Homo sapiens: one gene and its partners. The protein of the gene in region 3 interacts with the protein of the main gene of each other region in a pairwise test. Each region holds a gene or a part of one and is shown on either strand. Other genes may lie near its edges. The genes, in order: TSTD2, FXN and RNF138.

Evidence for each region.
Region 1: the proteins of RNF138 (region 3) and TSTD2 interact in binary tests that used the Homo sapiens proteins (3 or more experiments, as listed by UniProt).
Region 2: the proteins of RNF138 (region 3) and FXN interact in binary tests that used the Homo sapiens proteins (3 or more experiments, as listed by UniProt).

Annotation. Positions count from the first base shown.
Region 1 is NC_000009.12:97,609,304-97,616,414, forward strand, and holds part of TSTD2 (thiosulfate sulfurtransferase/rhodanese-like domain-containing protein 2), read right to left. Parts: intron 2,397-7,111; coding exon 2,271-2,396; intron 1,149-2,270; coding exon 1,043-1,148; intron 1-1,042.
Region 2 is NC_000009.12:69,052,687-69,059,797, reverse strand, and holds part of FXN (frataxin, mitochondrial isoform 1 preproprotein), read right to left. Parts: intron 6,659-7,111; coding exon 6,538-6,658; intron 1-6,537.
Region 3 is NC_000018.10:32,094,789-32,101,899, reverse strand, and holds part of RNF138 (E3 ubiquitin-protein ligase RNF138), read right to left. Parts: intron 1-7,111. UniProt on the Homo sapiens protein: E3 ubiquitin-protein ligase involved in DNA damage response by promoting DNA resection and homologous recombination.

The DNA of each region.
Region 1 (7,111 bases), on a different chromosome or scaffold from region 3:
CTCTAAATCTAATGATCAACTTATAGGAAATAAAGAGGACAGAGAAATATATCTTGGGAATACAATTATTATTGTCCAGATTATGGGAAACTCTAAAGGTCAAATGATCCAGTTCCTTCAAAAATAAACTGCAAGGGGGGAAAAAAAGATGGAAACAAATCTATAGGTTGAAAGACACTTAAAGAGACATACTGATGAATCACAGTGAATGAACCTTATTTAAATCCTAATAGAAATGAAGCTTAAAAAGTATGAGACAACCGGGAATTGAGTGACTAAACCAACTAGATATTTGATAATTTATTAAGGAATCAGTTAAAATGTTTTAAGATGTGATATCGTTTTGCATCTTTTAAAACAAATTTTTATCTTTTAGACATACCTACTAAAAATATTTACAAATGAAATGGCCTGACATTGGGGTTGCTTTCAAAATAATCCAAGATGGGAGAAGGGATGGGGTATAGGTGAGAGCTGGCCATTAATCAGTTAACTGCTAAAGCTGCATGATAGGTACATAGAACTTCACTATATTATTTTCTCTACTTTTTTAATGTTTAAAATTTTTCATAGTAAAAACTACAATAAAACCCCCAAAAACCTGCCAAACAAATGTCTTTCAACCATTTACCATGGAGAAGATGGGGAAAGAACATTCTAGAGCACAGTGAAAACTGCTGTGGTGTTGAAAGCAACTTGTTTCCTGTAGCAAAAGGCCTATTTGCTCTATTCTGCTAATGAACTGTTTACAAGTAATAATTACACTCTTCCCAAACTGCTTGCTGTCTTTGGAAAGAGCAAACAACTAATTGATAAACCATCACCAAGAGGAATAAGATAGGTCACTCGAAGAGGTGAGTCTTCAACCCCACAGCACCACAGAGAAACAGTATAAGCACTGGATGCAGCCAAGTGTTAGCCACCCCACAGCTGCTTTAGAGAGGACTCATGACTGCTGCTGATCACAGTGCCTAGCTTTCTTATTTGTCTATTAAGTTTTGTCCCTGTGAATTAAAGCACAATCTTCTAAAAGCAAGCATACCAGGCTTCTTGTAGGAGATCTTTTTGGGGCTGATCCCCATGGGCACGATTTCTTCAAATACACCAACACGCAATTCTGGAAAACAGTGAGCTCCTCCTTTGCTGGTCTAGCCAATGAGAAACAAAACAGAATACAGTCTTGCTGTCCCATCTCCAGGTATAAGACAAGTGCCAATATAAGAATGATGGTCTGTTTTGTAATAACAATAGCTGAAGTCTTAAAAAACCTCTAGTTAGGGCCCAGAATGTTCCAGATAATTCAACATTGATAAATACTTACTGCATACCTGCCATGTGCAGGAATGTTAAGCTGAAAAAGTGTTTCTTTAGGTGTAAGCATTTAATTATAAAACTGCAACACCGCTGAGCAATTCTAACATGTGACTATACCCGGTTTTCATTCTTTTCCTATCATTGCCAGCATGAACGCTAGCAAGGCATTTCCCATCACCTTATCACTTATTATGACAAGGTATAAAGTCACTCAAACAAAGCAGCCCACCTGTGAGAGCAACAACTTTATTCCCCCATGTGGTATGAAGTGTTAATCTTACAATTCCAGATTTACTAAAAACACAGTGATCTGCTGACCAGGCTGGTGGTCTCTCAAGTGAGCTAATATGTCCAAGATTTGGAGTCCCAGATTGCATGAGCTGTAACATTCTTATTTTATAAGAAGGGATACTGAGGTCTAGAGCACTAGCTGGTCCAAAATCATATGGTGACTCAGTGAAAGAATGGGGACGAGCATACTCCTTCTATTGTACTGTCTCGTAACCTAAAGAGAAAAGCACATTTAAAGGGGAAAGGGGGCAGGTGCGGTATCTCACGTCCATATCTCAGCACTATAGGAGGCTGACGTGGGAGGACTGCTTGAACCCAAGAGTTCCATACCAGCCTGGGCAACATAGTGAGACCCCGTCTCTACAAAAAAATTAGCCAGACATGGTGATGCACGCCTATGGTCCTAGCTACCTGGGAGGATCACCTGAGCCCAGGGAGGTTGAGGCTGCAGTGAGCCATGATCACGCCACTGCACTCCAGCCTGGGTGACAGAGCAAGACCCTGTCAAAAAACAAAACAAAAAAACTCCCCAAGCCCCAAAAAATAAAGGGGAAAGGGTATTTATTTGGCACTGCTTATTTCTCTACTTTGAACTCCTCTTCAATAACATGCACAGAGGCAGAAGCAGATGGCTCTAGATCCATTTAATTTTCATTTTCTCTTACCTTAAAATCATCTTTACACAGGTCATCCTTAAACAATGGGAAGGAAAGCATGACTTCCACATAAAGTCTGGTAGCCAATTTGCTTCCACCAACTGTCCCATTGATTCCTTCTGCAGCAATTCGAATCTGAGACACAAGACGGTGAAAAAGAGAACAGATTGTTCTTAGCTTGGTTATCTTTCCAGGGAAGAACAATAGGCTCATGTGTGTCAATGAGTTTAACAGGAAAAGCAGAGACGCTGATGAGGACACCAAAGTGTTACTGGACAAAGATATCTGTGTTTTTCTTTTTTATTTTAAACTTTTAAGTCCAGGGATACAAGTGCAGGTTTGCTCTGCAGGTAAAACTGTGTCATGGGGGTTTATTGTGCAGATTATTTCACCACCCAGGTATTAAGCTTAGTACCCCTTAGTTATGCTCCTGATCCTCTCCCTCCTTCCACCCTCCACCCTCCAAAAGGCCCCAGTGTCTGTTGTTCCCCTCTATGTGTCCACGTTCTCATAATTTAGCTCCCACTTATAAGTGAAAATATGTAGTATTTGGTTTTCTCTTCCTGCGTTAGTTTGCTAAGGATAATGGCTCCCAGCTCCATCCATGTCCCTGCAAAAGACATGATCTTGTTCTTTTTTATAGCTGCATAGTATTCCCACATTTTCTTTATCCAGTTTATCACTGATGGGCATTAGGTTGATTCCATGTCTTTGCTACTGTGAACAGTGCTGCAATGAACATATGCATACATGTGTCTTTATAACAGAACAATTTATATTCTTTTGGGTACATACCCAGTAATGGGATTGCTGGGTCGAATGATAGTTCTGTCTTTAGGTCTTTGAGGAATTACCACATTGTCTTCCACAACGGTTGAGCTAATTTACACTCCCACCTATAGTGTATAAGTATTCCTTTTTCTCTACAACCTCACCAGCATCTGTTATTTTTTGACTTTTTAATAACAGCCATTCTGACAGGTGTGAGATGGATACCTGTTTGTTTTTTAAGACAGAGTCTTGCTCTGTTGCCCAGGCTGGAGTGCAATAGCACAATCTCGGCTCACTGCAGCCTCCACCTCCTGGGTTCAAGCGATTCTCCTACCTCAGCCTCCTGAGTAGCTGGGATTACAGGCATGCGCCACCAAGCCCAGCTAATGTTCGTATTTTTAGTAGAGACGGGGTTTCGCCATGTTGGCCAGGCTGGTCTCCAACTCCTGGCCTCAAGTGATCTACCCGCCTTGGCCTCCCAAAGTGCTGGGATTACAGGCACAAGCCACCGTGCCCAGCTGGATACTTGTATTTTTCTAAAATGGCATAGCCTTCAGTTCAGATGAGGTATTCTGTTTCATGCATGCTGAACAAAAGAATGTGAATAAAACTCCTGGAAAGCCCCATTTGCTATGGAGCTACAATAGTCCAACAGCCAAAGAAGTGAATTCTGAGCTTAATCTAAATCCAGGTAGCTTAACAGAGTCCTCCACAGAGGTCAGCAGATCTAGGCTCAAGATTAAGCTCTGCCACTCACTTGCATGTAGCTGTGAGAAAGTTAATTGACTTCTCTGAATCTTAATTTCTTTATATGAATAAAAAGGGAACTAAAGAGCACCAGAAATGAAAAGAACTGCTGAGGAGATACTACCAAAATCCTAAAGCACAGAGTACATCTGAGGGCTGAGGGTATACATGAGCATGTATCTCTGCATGGTGTTTGGAGGACAGCCTACCACTGCAAACCATCCACTGGAATACAAGTTCCACATGGGTGTGTGTCTGTTTTGCTCACCAGCATATCCCCTAGAACAGTGCCTGCCACATAGTAGGCACTCAATACGATTTGTTGAATAAATGAATATGCATCCATATCTGGGGCTCTTTGGCATCTCAAGTCCCATATTCTCTTTGAAATGCTCCCCTGGTTAGGGGACATTAGAGCCTGGGGTAAAGCCCCAGCCTTAAGAGGCAGTGTTCTGGGGGCCCTGCAGAGTTGGTTGTTTTCGTACTACAAAATCCTGTGGATGAGTTTAAAGATGGATCATCTTTAAAGGGAACTGAGCTCTCTAAAGAAAAGTGCTAGCAAGGGCAGCACATGTGGCATCATGGCACTGTCTGGAAAAAGAGATGATTTAATTCAAGGTCCTATATTGTTCTAGTCATATAACACTGATATATACCAGTACTTCATAATTTGAAAATTTTTAATGGCTGTCCTTTTTTAGGGTCCAGAGAAGACACATCAGTTGATGCCTCACTTGATCAATTCTTTTTTTTTTTTTTTTTTTGAGACAGAGTCTCGCTGTGTCGCCCAGACTGCAGTGCAGTGGTGCAATCTCGGCTCACTGCAAGCTCCGCCTCCCAGGTTCACACCATTCTCCTGCCTCGGCCTCCCAAGTAGCTGGGACTACAGGTGCCCGCCACCACGCCCGGCTAATTTTTCATATTTTTAGTAGAGACGGGGTTTCACCGTGTTAGCCAGGATGGTCTCAATCTCCTGACCTTGTGACCTGCCTGCCTCGGCCTTCCAAAGTGCTGGGATTACAGGCATGAACCATCGCACCCAGCCCTACCTGATCAACTCTTTAGGGTATGGATATAAAACAAGATTCATGGCACAAGCCAATGCCAACTCATTGGAAGTGGTATATAATTTTAAACTTTGAAAGAACATAAAAGACACAAACATATGCATGTGTGTAATATGATCAGAGAATATTTTAGGAAAATAAAAACCATCGATAACCCTACATGCCTAGATAATCCTTACTAACATTTTGGTATACACAACCTTCCATGTTTATACATGCACTTCTGGTTTTGTCATGAACATGCATTCTATATTCTCCAAATATCTACTGAGGGTCTACTACATGCTAAGCTCTGTTCCAGCACTGAGAATACATCAATTAAGACCAAAATTCCTGTCCTCATGAAGCTTATAAATGAAGATTATACTTTCAGATAGTAATAAATTCTTTGAAAAGCAGAAAGGGATAGAACGTGACAAGATCTGGAGAGGACTACTTCAGACTGCAGCTCTAAGGAGACAATATGTGAGCCGAGATCTGAAGTGGGGTATGCGCCATGTGAAGGTGCAGGGAAGAGCACTCTAGAGAGGAAGGAAACAGCAAATGTCAATACCCTGAGCTGGTAAATGACCCTGGCAGGTTCTAGAAAATTAAGAAGCTTGGAATCACACCTCTACGTATAGTACTGTAAAATGTTTTCCAGAGTTCCATGACAAAGATTCCGGGTCACATCCAGACTCCTTGAGAAACAGTGCTGCAGTCTAGTGAAGCCAGTTCTGGGCATGGGAGAGGGAAGCAGGAAGCCTGTGACATCTCTGCTACACAGGCTACTGTCCCCACTACCAACTTATAGTGGACTACATAGAAAAATAGAGCCCAATCAGTGTAAGAGTCAGAAAACCCACTCCAAAAGAGTTTCTGACTACAGCAGGTAGGATGAAGTATGTATGTCTAAGTACCTCTCTTGGGGTAGGCTAGTAGATTCTTTTCTAATTTATTTTAATCTCAGAACCCAAAGAGAAGACAAGCACATCTGCTCCCTATATAGCTAGGGCAGAGCATGCTCTAAACTCGTGCACTAGACTTTGAACCCCCAGGATTCTCTAACAGAAATCCTTCAAAGCTCCTTAGTGAGGAAGGCCTTGTAAGAAACTGAGAAGAACAATCATTAGCATTTATTCAGCACTTGCTATGAGACAGAAGCATTACATTATAATCCTGAAAGGCAGATATCATAATCCCCGTTTTACAGAAAAGGAAACAAAAGCTCAGAGAAATCAAGTAACTTGCCCAGTGGTATAGCTGATAGCTGGTAAATCTGGGATTCAAAACCAGATCTTACTAGCTCCCAATCTTATAACTTTTCCTTTCCAAAGCCTTCAATGTATCCCCTCAAATTTTTTGAGGCAATAAAGAATACACAGCAATAGAGTAGAGGCTTTTTTCCCATAATTCTACAACTGTCAGGTTCTTCTCTTTCCCTACTTAGGCACTGATATTTTGCCAAATCTCCAAACACAAAACTCTCATTAAACTGGGCATGTATCCTTGACACCTAGGAATTTATATCCAAGATCTAGGCAAGTGCTGCCACCTTGTGGGTAAGATCCCTCATTGCTAATTTAGCACTTGGGTTGGGCCAAGAAAAATGATCTGCCTCTAAACCAAGAGGCTGTTTTCAAACCTTGTACATTCAGGTTTACTGTGAGAGTATCCATCTTTCAGGGTGTGGAAGTTTTCTGAATAGGAATGGTGATGAAAGTATTAAATATTATTTATTTATTTACACCAGGAATTGTGCTAGGAATTAGGGATACAGTGCTTGAAAAAAATATAGCTTTTCCCCTTTAGGAGCTTACAGACTATGGGAGGTCACAGATATTAAAATAAAAGTTACAAATGGACAAATGTTATGAAAAACAATTACAAGATGCCATGAGAGAGTGCACTGGGAAAAATGAATTTAGATTGACAGGAAAGGTCTCTTTGAGGAAGTGTCATGAAAATTGAAAACTAAGCTTGAGTAAAAATCAGACTGGAGCAGCAGAGTGGGTGTAGGAGAGTTCCTTGAAGATAGTTTGCTTGTAAGAAGGCCCAAGGAGAGAAAAGAACTCGGTGGGTTCCAAAAAACTGAAAGACCATGTTGCTGGAGTATAATGAGCAAAGAACAGTATCAGACGAGAGGAAAAGGTAAGAAGGGGCCAACTCACGCAGGAACCTAAGGGCATTTTTAAGGCACTGGATTTCCTCCATATGCACCAGAAGTGGCAGCCACTGAAAGAGTTTGAGGAGGGAGTGATGTGATTTGATTCACCTTTTAGGATC
Region 2 (7,111 bases), on a different chromosome or scaffold from region 3:
ATATCACTTAAGGACTCTTGGAAAGAAAATACAAATCCAGGATGCTAAGCCAGATCCTTTGTCTCCATATCCAATGAGATGGTGCCTCACTGGGCCAGGAACAGTGACTCACACCTCTAATGCCAGCACTTTGGGAGGCTGAGGCCAGTGGATCACTTGAGGTCAAGAGTTCAAGACCAGCCAGGCCAACATGGTGAAACCCCATCTCTACTAAAAATACAAAAAAAAAAATTAGCTGGACATAGTGGCACGCGCCTGTAATCCCAGTTACTCGGGAGACTGAGGCAAGAGAATCCCTTGAGCCCAGGAGGTGGTGGTTGCAGTGAGCTGAGATCGTGCCACTGCACTCCAGCCTGGGTGACAGAGTGAGATCTCTCTCAAAAAAAAAAAAAAAAAAAAAAAAAAAGATGCTGCCTCTGAGCAGGGGTTTTTAACTTGGGATTAAGTGGTCTCAGGGGGCTGCAGACACTTCCAGCTTGAAGCTGGAATGGTACTCCTGAGTATGTTAACTTAAGTGTAGCTAAAACTGCCTCCTTACCTATTTTGAGTTCGGATCTAAGGGCTTCTCTGTACATAGTGAACTGCAATCTACTCTTGTACCAATCACCGAGTTTTGGCTAATCAAAGGCGGCCAACTGTTCAAACCAAGTTTAAGGCAAACACCAAGCTGTAACCAACCTGGCTGTTTCTGTACCTCACTTTCATTTTCCTTTTTCTTTTCTTTTTTTTTAAGATGAAGTCTCGCTCTGTCGCCCAGGCTGGAGTGCAGTGGCGGGATCCTGGCTCACTGCAAGCTCCGCCTCCCAGGTTCACACCATTCTCCTGCCTCAGCCTCCCAAGTAGCTGGGACTACAGGTGCCTGCCACCACGCCCGGCTAAGTTTTTGCATTTTTAGTAGAGACAGGGTTTCACCGTGTTAGCCAGGATGGTCTCGATCTCCTGACCTCATGATCTGCCCGCCTCGGCCTCCCAAAGTGCTGGGATTACAGGCGTGAGGCACCGCACCAGCACCAGGCCCTCACTTTCATTTTCTGCATGTCACTTTCCTTTTTCTGTGCATAAATCCTAAATCCTCTCCAACCACGTGGCACACCGTGGAGTCTCTCTGAACCTATTCTGGTTGCAGCCTTCCCGATTTATGAATCATTCTTTGCTGAATAAAACTCTGTTAATTTGTTTAAAGTTTTTTTTTTTTTTAACAGGTGAGTATGGAAGTTTTTATTGGGAGAGGGACCAGAGCAGTCATCAGATTCTTAGAGGGAGGTCCTGATCCAAAAAAGATGAAGAACCCTCAGTTCTAAGACAGTAATATGCTGACACCTTAGTGAATAAAGAACATGTCAACAAGCAAATCCTTATTAAAATATCTAAGATGCCAGGACTCCACCTGGGAAAAAAAAGAGGTCAGCCTGGAGGTAACTTCAGGTAGTGGGGTGACTCTAACAGTCTCCAGGCAGATTTTACTAGGTCAAGTAGAGCGGACTCCACAGCTGCCTAGTGACAAGAGGTCCTTTCAGCTCTGGTAGAGTGTCTTCTGTAATGACCAGTGCCAGTAAGGGGTGATGCCTGGGCCAGACATTGGCATCCACCTGTTACCTGGACCACTTGATCAGACGACACACCAGTTAAGAAGCCACTTAAGTCTCCCACTCCACAGAGAGAAAAAAGAACAGATGTCCTCTTGGGTGTATCTGGATTACTGCTTTCATTTGTCTATGTGGCCAGTAGCGAGTTGGTAAAAGGTGTATAAATGCTGAGAGGCATCAACGAAAGCATGTTTTGGAAAAGTCTCATTTACATATGAATCAATATTTATTAAGTCCCTACTATGTACTTGGCACTGTTCCAGACACTGGGATCAAAGAATGGACAGTGTCCCTGCTGTTGAGGAACTCAGTGTGTTATAGGTGGTAGCTGACGTGTAAATAGACAATTATAACACAGAGGGATCAGTGCTCCACAGAGTCAACCTCAGAGTGCTGGGCAAGGGAGAAAGGAAGGACCGTGTCTGCTTGGAGTATCTAGGAAGGCTTCACAAAGGAGGTAACTTCTAGCTATATCTCAGGGGAGGAAAAGACTGCTCTCCCACAAAGCTCAAGTAATAATATTATCAAACATGAAATACATAAATTAGTTAGCACCTGAAGGACTCTAATCAGGAATTCATACTCTAGGGTACAGAGTTAGCATTTCAATGTAGTTAATCACAAGTCCAAACTATAGATGGCAGCCACTGTATAGCTTTAGCTTTCTAAATCTACACTTAAGCATTTGCTAATTAGTAAATGATTTGTTAGAAATAATTTTGCCCTTGAGTGATACTCAAGGTATATGAATTGGCTAGAAAAATATAGGCATCTCTTCCTTTGAAAGAATGGGTTACAGAATCTGGAAAGCCTACTAGCCTAATGTTGTCTTCAGAGAGACAATCTCAGGGCAGGAATCAGGAAGGTTCTCTGACCCACTACTGGGAGCAGAAGGTTTTGTCGCCTGGTTCAAATTGATTCAATGATGTGAGAAATAAAAACAAAATTCTAAGCTCCCAACTGACTCAACAAACTATCTTTTGGCCAAGGGGAGCCCAGAGATATCTAAAAAAAATTTTAAGTTTTGGCCATGATGGGAAAGGAGTTCAAACAGGACTCGTTCTATTCCCTCCCTAACTGCCATTAGTTTTTTTTCCCCTAAGGGCTAAATAGAAACTAGCCCTTTCAAAAAAATTATTTCAGGCCATGCATGGTGGCTCATGCCTGTAATCCCAGCACTTTGGAGCTGCCTGTAATCCCAGCACTTTGGGAGGCCAAAGCAGTTGGATTACCTGAGGTCAGGAGTTCAAGACTAGCCTGACAACATGGCAAAACCCAGTCTCTACTAAAAATATAAAAAAATTAGCCAGGCGTGGTGGCAGGCGCCTGTAATCCCAGCTACTCGGGAGGCTGAGGCAAGAGAATCACTTGAACCCAGGAGGTGGAGGTTGCGATGAGCTGAGATCACACCACTACACTCCAGCCTGGGCAACAGAGCAAGACTCCATCTCAAAAAGAAAAAAAAAAAAAAGACTCACTTCACCACTGGTATCAACTCATCACCTAATTCTGCCCTTCCTTTTTAGTGGTTTCAGCACAACTGACTAGCATTCCTTCCTGATAACCACTGACCACAGAGTGGTCTAAGACAGGGTCTTGCCCTGTCATCCTGGCTGGAGAACAGTGGTGCGATCATGGCTCACAGCTGCCTCGAACTCCCAGTCTTAAGTGATGCTCCTGCTTCAGCCTACCAAATAGCTAGGTTATGTAGATATGCAGTCTCATTTTGTTGCCCTGTAATACATGTTAGTGTTAAGTTTCTGCCTAAGGTGAACATGGGAGACATGCTGCACACGTTAGCTTACTCCACATGTGTGCATATTCATAGATCCTCCCTTTGTGAATATTCATAGATCCTCCCATAATCTGTTGAATATGTATGCTTAGCTACGCCTCTCAGCATAAATTCATGTTCCCTTTGCCCCTTCTTGGAAGTGCTTGTTTTTCAGTTATGGCCAGAGGCTCTGCTTCCTGCCTACAGGTAGTGGGACCCTCTTTAGAAATAGTCCTCCTTTCTAAATTTATAGATTTGTGGCTGGGTGTGCTGGCACACACCTGTAATCCCGGTGCTTTGGGAGGCCGAGGTGAGAGAATCGCTTGAGGCCAGGAGTTTGAGACCAGCCTGGGAAACATAGCGAGACCCATAAATAAAATAAAATAATTAGCCGAGTATGGTGGCATGTGCCTGTAGTCCCAGCTACTAGGGAGGCTGAGGTGGAACGATCACTTGAGCCCAGAAGCTTGAGGCTGCAGTGAGCTATGATTGTGCCACTGCACTCCAGCCTGGGTGACAGAGCGAGGCCCTGTCTCTAAAAATAATAATACTAAATACCATATTTTTATATAAATATATTTAATTAAATATAAATATATTTGTGACTTTTTCAGTTCAATAGAAGTAAACCAAAAGATGACTTTTGCCAGGTGCCGTGGCTCATGCCTGTTAACCCAGCACTTTAGGAGGCTGAGGCGGGTGGATCACTTGAGATCAGGAGTTTGAGACCAGCCTGGCCAACATGGTGAAACCCCATTTCTACTAAAAATACAAAACTTAGCCCTGTATTGTGGTACATGTCTGTAATCCCAGCTACTCAGGAGGTTGAGGCGGGAGAATCGCTTGAACCTGGGAGGCAGAGGTTGCAGTGAGCTGAGATCACACAACTGCACTCCAGCCTGGGTGACAGAGCTAGGCTTCAACTCAAAAAAAAAAAAAAAGAAGAAGAAGAAGTAAACCAAACGCAGCTGCTAGAATATTGGCACATTTGCTTCTAACAAAACATTCATGCAAAGTACTCTGGTCAAACTGGGGCTTCACTAATCCTATAAAAACAGGTTTCATGACTGTTTTTGTAGCTTGCTAATCAATGTCTGCATGTGTGGGCAGAGTTTAGCCTGCAACTTGGTTTCCCTGCAGTTACAGGCTCTAGTAGAGGCTAGGGGAGAGAAGGCCCTTAACTCCCCCACCTCTGATCAGGCTGTGGATGCTCAAGTTGGTAGGTCAGTTTGTAAGAGTTCCCAAGCAGCCCGGCCCTCTAGGGCTGCCTGTGCAAGCACTTTAAAGCCCTGCCCAGGCACTACTGCATTTTTTGCTGCTAACAGCAATTACTGAATCTACTTGAAAGGCATTCAATCCTTCCCTGCTCCATTGCTCCTTTTTTGTTTTTTCAATTCCCTCACTGTCCTTATAGTCAGGCTTGATACCTTCTCTAAGACTTGGTTGCCTCCTCCATTATGTGGAGTGCCTTCTCCATTCAGTGCTCCCGCTGCAATTTCCAATACTATTTCTATCGCTTTAGTCTGATGGCTGATTGTCCTCAACAATTCCATGATTGAATCCAAAATGCACGCTTCGTGACATTTTCTGGTATTAGTCAATTGCCATCAAGAGGATTAACATCTTTGAGGAGCCAGGCGCGGTGGCTCACACCTGTAATCCTAGCACTTTGGGAGGCTGAGGTGGGAGGATTACTTGAGTTCAGGAGTTCAAAACCAGCCTGGCCAACGTGGTGAAACACTGTCTCTACTAAAAATACAAAAATTAGCTGGGTGTGGGGGCGTGTGCCTATAATTCCAGCTACTTGGGAGGTTGAGGCAGGAGAACTGCTTGAACCCGAGAGGCAGAGGTTGCAGTGAGATCATGCCACTGCACTCCAGGCTGAATAACAGAGGGAGACTCTGTCTCAAAAAACAAACAAACAGACAAACAAACCAACCAACCCAGAAAACCATCTTTGAGGGATTTTCTCCCACTGGCAAAAAAGAACTACTTTAAGGCCTAAGCAATAATTCTAAACCCAAAGGCAGACCCTTGCCCAAATCTGCCACCTGGTGGCCAGTCGATAAAGACCAGCACTTCCCTGGCTTCTAGGATCTGGGGCTAATGTTTCATCCAACTCAGAAGTTCTCACACCAGGCCGGACCTGGTGGCTCACGCCTGTTATCCCAAAACTTTGGAAGGCTGATGGGGGTGGACCATTTGAGGTCAGGAGATCGAGACCAGCCTAACCAACATGGTGAAACCCCGTCTTTACTAAAATGCAAAAATTAGCTGGGCATGGTGGCAGATGCCTATAATCCCAGCTACTCGGGAGGCTGAGGCAGGAGAACTGCTTGAACCCAGGAAGCGGAGCAGTGAGCCGAGATTGCGCCACTGCACTCCAGCCTGGGTGACAGAGTGAGACTCCTTCAAAAAAAAACAAGTTCTCATACTAGCTGCATATTGGAATCATCTGTGGAGCTTAAAAATCCCAGTGCCCTGCCCAGGTCATGCCACACCCCAGACCAAGTAATCAAAATCTCTAGGAATAAGACCTAGGGATACACATTAGAATCCCAGGTGAGCTTTTCAAAAATATGCTTCCCAGGAATGCACCCGACCTACCCCATCACTGTCTCACAGGAGCAGGGCTCAAGTCTTTGTAATCTAAATAACTTTTGGGCAGTTATCTTATCCCTACTGAAGAACTACGGGTCTAGTTTGTTGTTCCCTCCATCTGCCTGCTGGACAAATACACACTCAGGCCCCTCTCTGATTTGCCTTCATGGGTATCCACTGAAGCTGGAAAATGAGGCTCAGAGAGGCTGAGTGACTTGCCCAGAGTCACAACAAGCCTGGTAGAGCTGGACTGCAGCTTGAAGCCTAGTCTTGTCTTATCTATCTTATCTATCTATCCAGCTATCTATCTATCTATCTATCTATCTATCCATCCATCCATCCATCCATCCATCCATCCATCCATCTATGACAGAGTCTCGCTCTGTCACCCAGGCTGGAGTGCAGTGGCGTGATTTTGGCTCACTGCAACCTTCACCTCCCGGAACCCTAGTCTTTTAATCCTACCTACAACTACATGCTACTTGATGCTTAGCTCTGCTGGAGGGAAATTCTTCATTTTAGTGAACTAAAATTCTTAGAGGGGGAAACAGAAAAATAAAAGAAGTCAAGAGGTACCCCAAAGGAGACATCATAGTCCTCAAACGTGTATGGCTTGTCTGCAAGGTCTTCAAAAAACTCTGCTAAAGAGTCCAGCGTTTCCTCTGCTAGTCTTTCATAGGTGGTCTCATCTAGAGAGCTGCAGAGGAAGCACAAAACCCAAAACATGATTACCAAATGCTTCCATTTTATTAATATCAAATTTATACATTTGTTATTTAAATTCATTAAATTGATGAAAATAACATGTAAAAAGTAAAAGTTTTTCTTTCTTTTTTTTTTTTTTTTGAGACAGAGTCTCACTCTGTCACCCAGGCTGGAGTGCAGTGGCTGGTCTGAACTCGTGACATCAAGTGATCCACCACGTGCCTCAGCTTCTCGAAATGTTAGGATTACAGGCGTAAGGCACCGTGCCCGGCCCAAAGTAAAAATTTAAAGGCCGGGCGTGGTAGCTCATGCCTGTAATCCCAGCACTCTGGGAGGCCGAGGCAGGCAGATAACACGGTCAGGAGATCGAGACCATCCTGGCTAACATGGTGAAACCCCGTCTCTACTGAAAATACAAAAAATTAGCCGGGCGTGGTGACGGGTG
Region 3 (7,111 bases):
GTCTCAAACAAGCAAAAATGTAATATGGAAAAATGCATGCAGCCTTGCTAGCAACTAAAGAAATACATTTTAATGTGACTTCTAGACACCACTATGAACTGTATTAAAATAGCATAAAAATGCTTAAAAAAACAAAATTGGCAAAGATGATGGATTACAAATATACTTTTATAGTACTAATGGCATTTTGTAAATTAGCTCAATTTTTGGGAAAGCAACATGACATTTATGAAAATAGCAGTTAACACTTATTGCGTACATAATATGTGCTAGGTGCTAGGCTGGATCCCAGAAACTATCCATTCATGATCTTGAATTCTTAAAAAAAAATAAATTTTTCTTAATAAGTTCCTTCATTTTACAGATGAGGAAACTAAGGCTTAAAAAAATAAAATGTTAATAAACCTGTAAGAGTGAGGCAGGCAAATCACTTGAGGTCAGGAGTTCAAGACCAATCTGGCCAACATGGTGAAACCCTGACTCTAATTTAAAAATATATATATATACACAAAAATTAGCCAGGAGTGGTGGTGCACGCCTGTAATCCCAGCTACTCAGAAGACTGAGGTAGAAGAATGGCTTGAACCTAGGAGGCGGAGGTTACAGTGAGCCAAGACTGCGTGTGCCACTGCACTCCAGCCTGGACAACAGAGCCAGACTCTGTCTTTGAAAAAAAAAAAAAAAAGAAACCTATAAGAGGTTGAAGCCCAGAAGATGTTTCTGTCATTCAAATACAAAGCCCTGCATGTTCCCTCCTACCTCGGGACCTTTGTCCAGAATGTTTCTTCTCCCCAGAATGTTCTATGCACGAGCACAGCCCTCCACAAATTAATACCTATATCTCTCTTAGATATCAGCAACAATATCACTTCCTAAAGAAAGGGTCATCGATACTCACCCACTAGATCTGATCCCTCTCTTATACTCTCTCGAAACCTATACATTTGTAATTACACCATTTTTCTGAGCATTTATTTTAATTTAAATATATCTCAGGCCAGGCGCAGTGGCTCAGGCCTGTGATCCCAGCACTCTGGGAGGCCAAGGCGAGCAGATCGCTTGAGCTCAGGCATTCGAGACCAGCCCGGCCAACATGGTGAAACCCAGTCTATACAAAAAATACAGGCCGGGCGCGGGGGCTCACGCCTGTAATCCCAACACTTTGGTAGGCCGAGGTGGGTGGATCACCTGAGGTTGGGAGTTCGAGACCAGCCTGACCAACATGGTGAAACCCCCGTCTCTATTAAAAATACAAAATTAGCCAGGCCTGGTGGCGCATGCCTTTAATCCCAGCTACTTGGGAGGCTGAGGCAGGAAAATCGCTTAAACCCGGGAGACGGAGGTTGCAGTGAGCCGAGATCGCGCCATTGCACTCCAGCCTGGCCAACAAGAGCAAAACTCCGTCTCAAAAAAAAAAAAAAAAAAAAAAAAGTTAGTTGGGTGTGGTGGTGGCACATGCCTGTAGTCCCAGCTACTGGGAAGGCTAAAGGGGGATTACTTGAGCCCAGAGAGGTCAAGGCTGCAGTGAGCCATGATCATGCCACTGCACTCTAGCCTGGGCAACAGAGCAACAGAGAAAGACCCTGTCTCAAATATATATATAAAATAATAAAATAGAGGTATTCAGGTCTCTTATGTCCAATTTTACTGTTCCTTCCCCTGTACAACCAAAGATTTTATATATATATATATATATATCTCAATCACTAACACCCAGCTCCAAGAGGGCAGGGATCCTATCTATTTGCTCTTTACAATATCCCTGGCACCTAACAGTGCTAGGCACCTATTAGGCAGTCCTAATATTTGCTAAAGCAATGAATGCCAATTTACCTTAATTTAAAAAGTATTAAATCCCTTAACCAAAAGATATAATTGACAGTTCTCAAATCAAAACCTTGAGCACTTTCCATGAACAAGACACTTCACTAGAGCTGCAATTATTCTTGTGTGATGTATCAGAAATATTTGTTTGTATCTACCCTTTGACCCAGCAATTCCATTTGTCAGAATTTAGCTGGCAGGAAAAACTCTCATATGTGAAACGATATATTAGTAGGCTTAAGTAAGTAACAGGAGATCTTGGATGCTTTCTTTATAAAGCTTGCAGCCTAACCAGTGAAACTGACATTGGTCAAATTATCTGATTCCAAAAATGTTATGATTACAAACTGTGATAACAGGTACAAAGAATGGCCGGGTGCAGTGGCTCACACCTGTAATCCTAGCACTTTGGGAGGCCGAGGCGGGGCAGATCATTTGGGGTCAGGAGTTGGAGACCAGCCTGACCAACATGGTGCAACACCATCTCTACTAAAAATACAAAAAAATTAGCCGGGTATAGTGGTGCATGCCTGTAGTTCCAGCTACACGGGAGATTGGGGCAGGAGAATCTCTTGAACCCAATGGGTGGAGGTTGCGGTGAGCCAAGACTGCACCACTGCACTCCAGTCTGGGCAACAGAGCGAGATTTTGTCTAAAAATAAAATAAAATAGAGATATTCAGGTCTCTTATCTCCAATTTTACTGTTCCTTCCTCTGTACAACCAAGCATGTTTCTTCAGACATAAAACGAATTATTCTCATCTCACTTTGGGCTGGAATGGATCAAAGTGCTAGACAGAACTTATTTCAAAACAAAGCAGAAGTAGGAAGGAAAAAGGTACAAATCAAGAATTACTAAAACTAATTTTCATGTTCCTGAAAAGGCCCGTATCTTCAGAACAGGGCATTACCCTATAACCAAAAAAGGTCTCTTTACATTTCTCTCAACTTTAAACTAGCAGATGCTAGACGAATTTCCATTACGCATTCTCCCAACAAAAGGCTAATCAACAACACTGGGAGAGGAAAAACAATATTCCCACTCATCATGCTCCCAATTTCAGTATAAATTAAATAATTTAAAATCTGGCACTTAGTCTATCTATTTTCCGAGTCGATAATCGAGATCATTCCCCAAAAAAACTTCAAAAAAAAAAAAAATCAAAGGTTGTAAACTAGTCCTCAAGATTTAAAATTAAGTAAATCTTTTTTTTTTTTTTTTTGAAACGGAGTCTCACTCTGTCGCCCGGGCTGGAGTGCAGTGGCACCATCTCAGCTCACTGCAAGCTCCACCTCCCGGGTTCATGCCATTCTCCTGCCTCAGCCTCCCGAACAGCTGGGATTACAGGCGCCTGCCGCCACACCCGGCTAATTTTTTTGTATTTTTAGTAGAGACAGGGTTTCACTGTGTTAGCCAGGATGGTCTCGATCTCCTGACCTTGTGATCCGCCTGCCTCGGCCTCCCAAAGTGCTGGGATGACAGGCGTGAGCCACTGCGCCCGGCCTCAACCTTTATTATATAATTAAATAGCACAGATTTTAGGAAAGAAGAAAATTATTTTAAAGTATATACTTAGAGCATAACTACTCAAGTAACAAGATACCAATAAAGCTGTTAAAATTACAAAGCCAGGTGCTGTGGCACTCACCTGTAGTCCCCACTACTCAGGAGGCTCAGGTGGGAGGACTGCTTGAGACCAGGAGTTTGAGACCAGCCTGAGCAACAAAGCAAGACCCCATCTCTAAAAAATTTAAACTATAAGAAATATATTGTGGGCGCAGTGGCTCACACCTGTAATCCTAGCACTTTGGGAGGCCAAGGCAAGAGGATCACTTGAGGTCAGGAGTTCAAAACCAGCCTGGAGTTCAAAACCAGCCTGGCCAACATGGTAAAACCCTGTCTCTACTAAAAATACAAAAAATTAGCAGGGCGTGATGGTGCACGCCTGTAATCCCAACTACTTGGGAGGCTGAGGGAGTAGAATCGCTTGAACCAGGGAGGTGGGAGGTTGCAGTGAGCCAAGACCGCACCACTGCAATCCAGCCTGGGCAACACAGTGAGACTGTCTCAAAACAAACAAACAAACAAACAAAAATAACACACACACACACACACACACACACACACACATATATACATACACATATACACACACACACACAAATACACATACATACACATATACATACACATATATACATATATATAGCCCGAGCAACAGAGTGAGACCCTGTTTCTAAATTAATTAATTAGGCCGAGGATAGTGGCTCATGCCTATAATCCCAGCACTTTCGGAGGCCAAGGCGGGCAGATCACTTGAGCGCAGGGGTTCGAGACCAGCCTGGCCAATATAGTGAAACCTCATCTCTACTAAAAATACAAAAAAACAAAAAACAAAAATTAGCCGAGCATGGTGGTGCATGCCTGTAGTCCAGCTACTTGTTGTGCCTGTAGTCCCAGCTACTCAGGAGGACGAGGCAGGAGAATCGCTTAAATCCAGGAGGTGGAGGTTACAGTAAACCAAGATCCCACCACTGCACTCCAGCCTGGGCAACAGAGACTCGGTCTCAAAAATAAATAATTAATTTAAAATTGTTTTAAAATTAAGGATTAAAAAAAGTAAATATGAACTAAAAACTCAGGAACTGGATGTTCAAGCTGGTCAAATAGGAAATTACACAAATTTGTGCTTAACAAGAAGTAGAAGTTCATTTTAAAAGATGCCTCCTTACAGAGAGGCCTAAAAGCAAAAACAGATTAGATTTCCATTTTTAAGAGTTCAGCAAAGAATCAAACTTGTTATATGTAATTTTTATTGCAATAGTAGCTTACTTCTGCCATGTACAAGAATTATTTCCTTGACTGTTCAAAACAAGGAAGAACAGAGGTTTCCAAGAGCCTTTGAAGATTACAGAATAAAACACCAAAAGAGATAAACACCTTACTCCTACGCCAGTCTGTACTTTCTTCTGAAGCCTTGCTTTGACTACCTGCTCAACTTTCATATTAATTTGTCTTAACATGTTTTTCAAAATATTACATCTGCCAGGTGTGGAGGCTCTTGCCTGTAATCCCAGCACTTTGGGAGGCTGAGGCAGGAGGACGGTTTGCACCCAGGAGTTAGAGACTAGGTTGGGCAACAAAGCAAGACCCATCTCTACAAAAAAATTTTTTTTAATAGCCAGGCATGGTGGTGAGTGCCTGTAGTCCCAGCTAGCTACTTGGGAGGTTGAGGTGGGAAGATTTCTTGAGCCTGGGAGGTCGAGGCTGCAGTAAGCTATGATCATGCCACTGCACTCCTCGCAACAGAGCGAGACCCTATTTCAAAAAAAACAAAAACAAAAACAAAATTACATCTGACCACTCTAAGGCCTCTGAAAATGCTGACTGCTTCCTTAACAATCATTTGCAGATGATCTGAATCCTCAGTTTCCACTCTCACTTTATTCCTGGTTTTCTTCCTATCCTTCTGTTCGTTCCTTGTCTGGCTGCAATTTTCTCCACTCGATATTTAAGTAAGTATTCTCCAACACTTGGCTCTATCTAGGTGCTCTTCAATCTTTCCATTTATATACCTCACTCGGTGACCACTTCGACACCCACAGCTTTAGCTCCATGTATTCCAGATCTACATATGGTATACACACTTAACTACTGAACCCAGTCATCAAATCTTACACTGTCCTTAAAATGTCAGGAGTCTCTCTGCTCCATTCCTACTATCATTTCCTTAGTTCAGGTTCTAATCATTTCTCTCCCTGACACATCAATGAATGACCGACCTCTTCACTAGTCTCACCACTACCAAGCTGAAAACCCTGCTATGAAGGTAAACTTTCTAAAAATGAAATGTGACCACGCTGCTCCCCTGCCAAAAATTATTTACTAGGTCTAGTATTATTCATTAGGTTATCTAATTATTTAATAGGTTTTCAGGAAAACACTCAAATTAGCTTACACAGTAAGTTCCTGCCAATAACGCTAAGCTCCATCTCCACTACGCTGTCTTTGGCTCCAGCCAAACTTCAAAGTCCAGCTCACATTCATCCTCTGTACCCTCCTTGACTCTGGCATTCCCCACAAACACTGAATACAAACGCTGACCTAAGGCATTACTTCATCTAGGAAATTATCCCTATCCTTTAGGCTAATTTAGATACCTGCTCTAGATGCTCACATAAAATCTCTTCTATATCAATCACACTCATTTATAGGTCTCTCCAGCGGACTATTAAGTCTCCAGAGAAACAGTACTTAGTAGTCCCTGCACCAGACAAAGAGCATTCAACAACTGCAGTTTCAGGGAATGAATGGGGATTAAACGGGAGTTTATATTTTAGTAATGTTATTCTAATGATAATGAACTTGCTCCTTTTACTAGGATAGTCAGTAGTCAAATCCTTTCCTGTCATTGAAATGGCAATTAAAATTTTTCATTTTCTAACTGATCCACAGTAACCCAAAGCCCTTATCACTTCAACTCTCTATTCGTGAATCAAAAATTGATTTTGCAGCCAAATATAAATTTCTTTAAAGGCATAGGTCTGTCCTTTGTGAAGAAGGTAGAGCAAATGACATAGATAACTATGTTAATTAAAAAACAGGTCAGGTGCCATGCCTCACGCCTGTCATCCCAGCACTTTTGGAGGCCAAGACAGGAGGATGACTTCAGCCCAGGAGTTCAAGATCTGACTGGGCAACGTAGTGAGGCCCTGTCTCTATAAAAAAGAAAACAAAATTAGTCAGGCATGGAGGCATGCTCCTGTAGTCCCAGCAACTTGAGAGGCTGAGGCGGGAGGGTTGCTCCAACGGGGGAGGTCAAGGCTGCAATGAAACATGATCACACCACTGCACTCCACCCTGGACAACAGAATAAGACCATGTCTCAAAAAAAAACGATAATTTTTAAAATTTCTCTCCAATTCCCCCACTAAACTCCTTCCAACTGATTAAAATCCTGTTCCTCCATTACCACCTCTTCCAAATTAAACTTTTTTTCTCCCTCTGCCTATTCTTTTAATTCATTGTTCAGGCAGAACTGTCTACGTACAATAAGTTGATTTGAGAAAGGTCCTGAATTAAAAACAATCATCTCCAACATTTTCCACAGTCTTGAGGTCAAATCAAATTATAAACCTTGATTTAAAATGTCCCACAAGGGAAGCGGACTAGAGCAATCTACACGGAATTTTGGGGAGTGCTAAAAACTACAATGAGGCCCATTAGGTCAATGACCCAAAGGATAATTAGAATGATTCTATCCAAAAAAGACCTGCTTTATATATA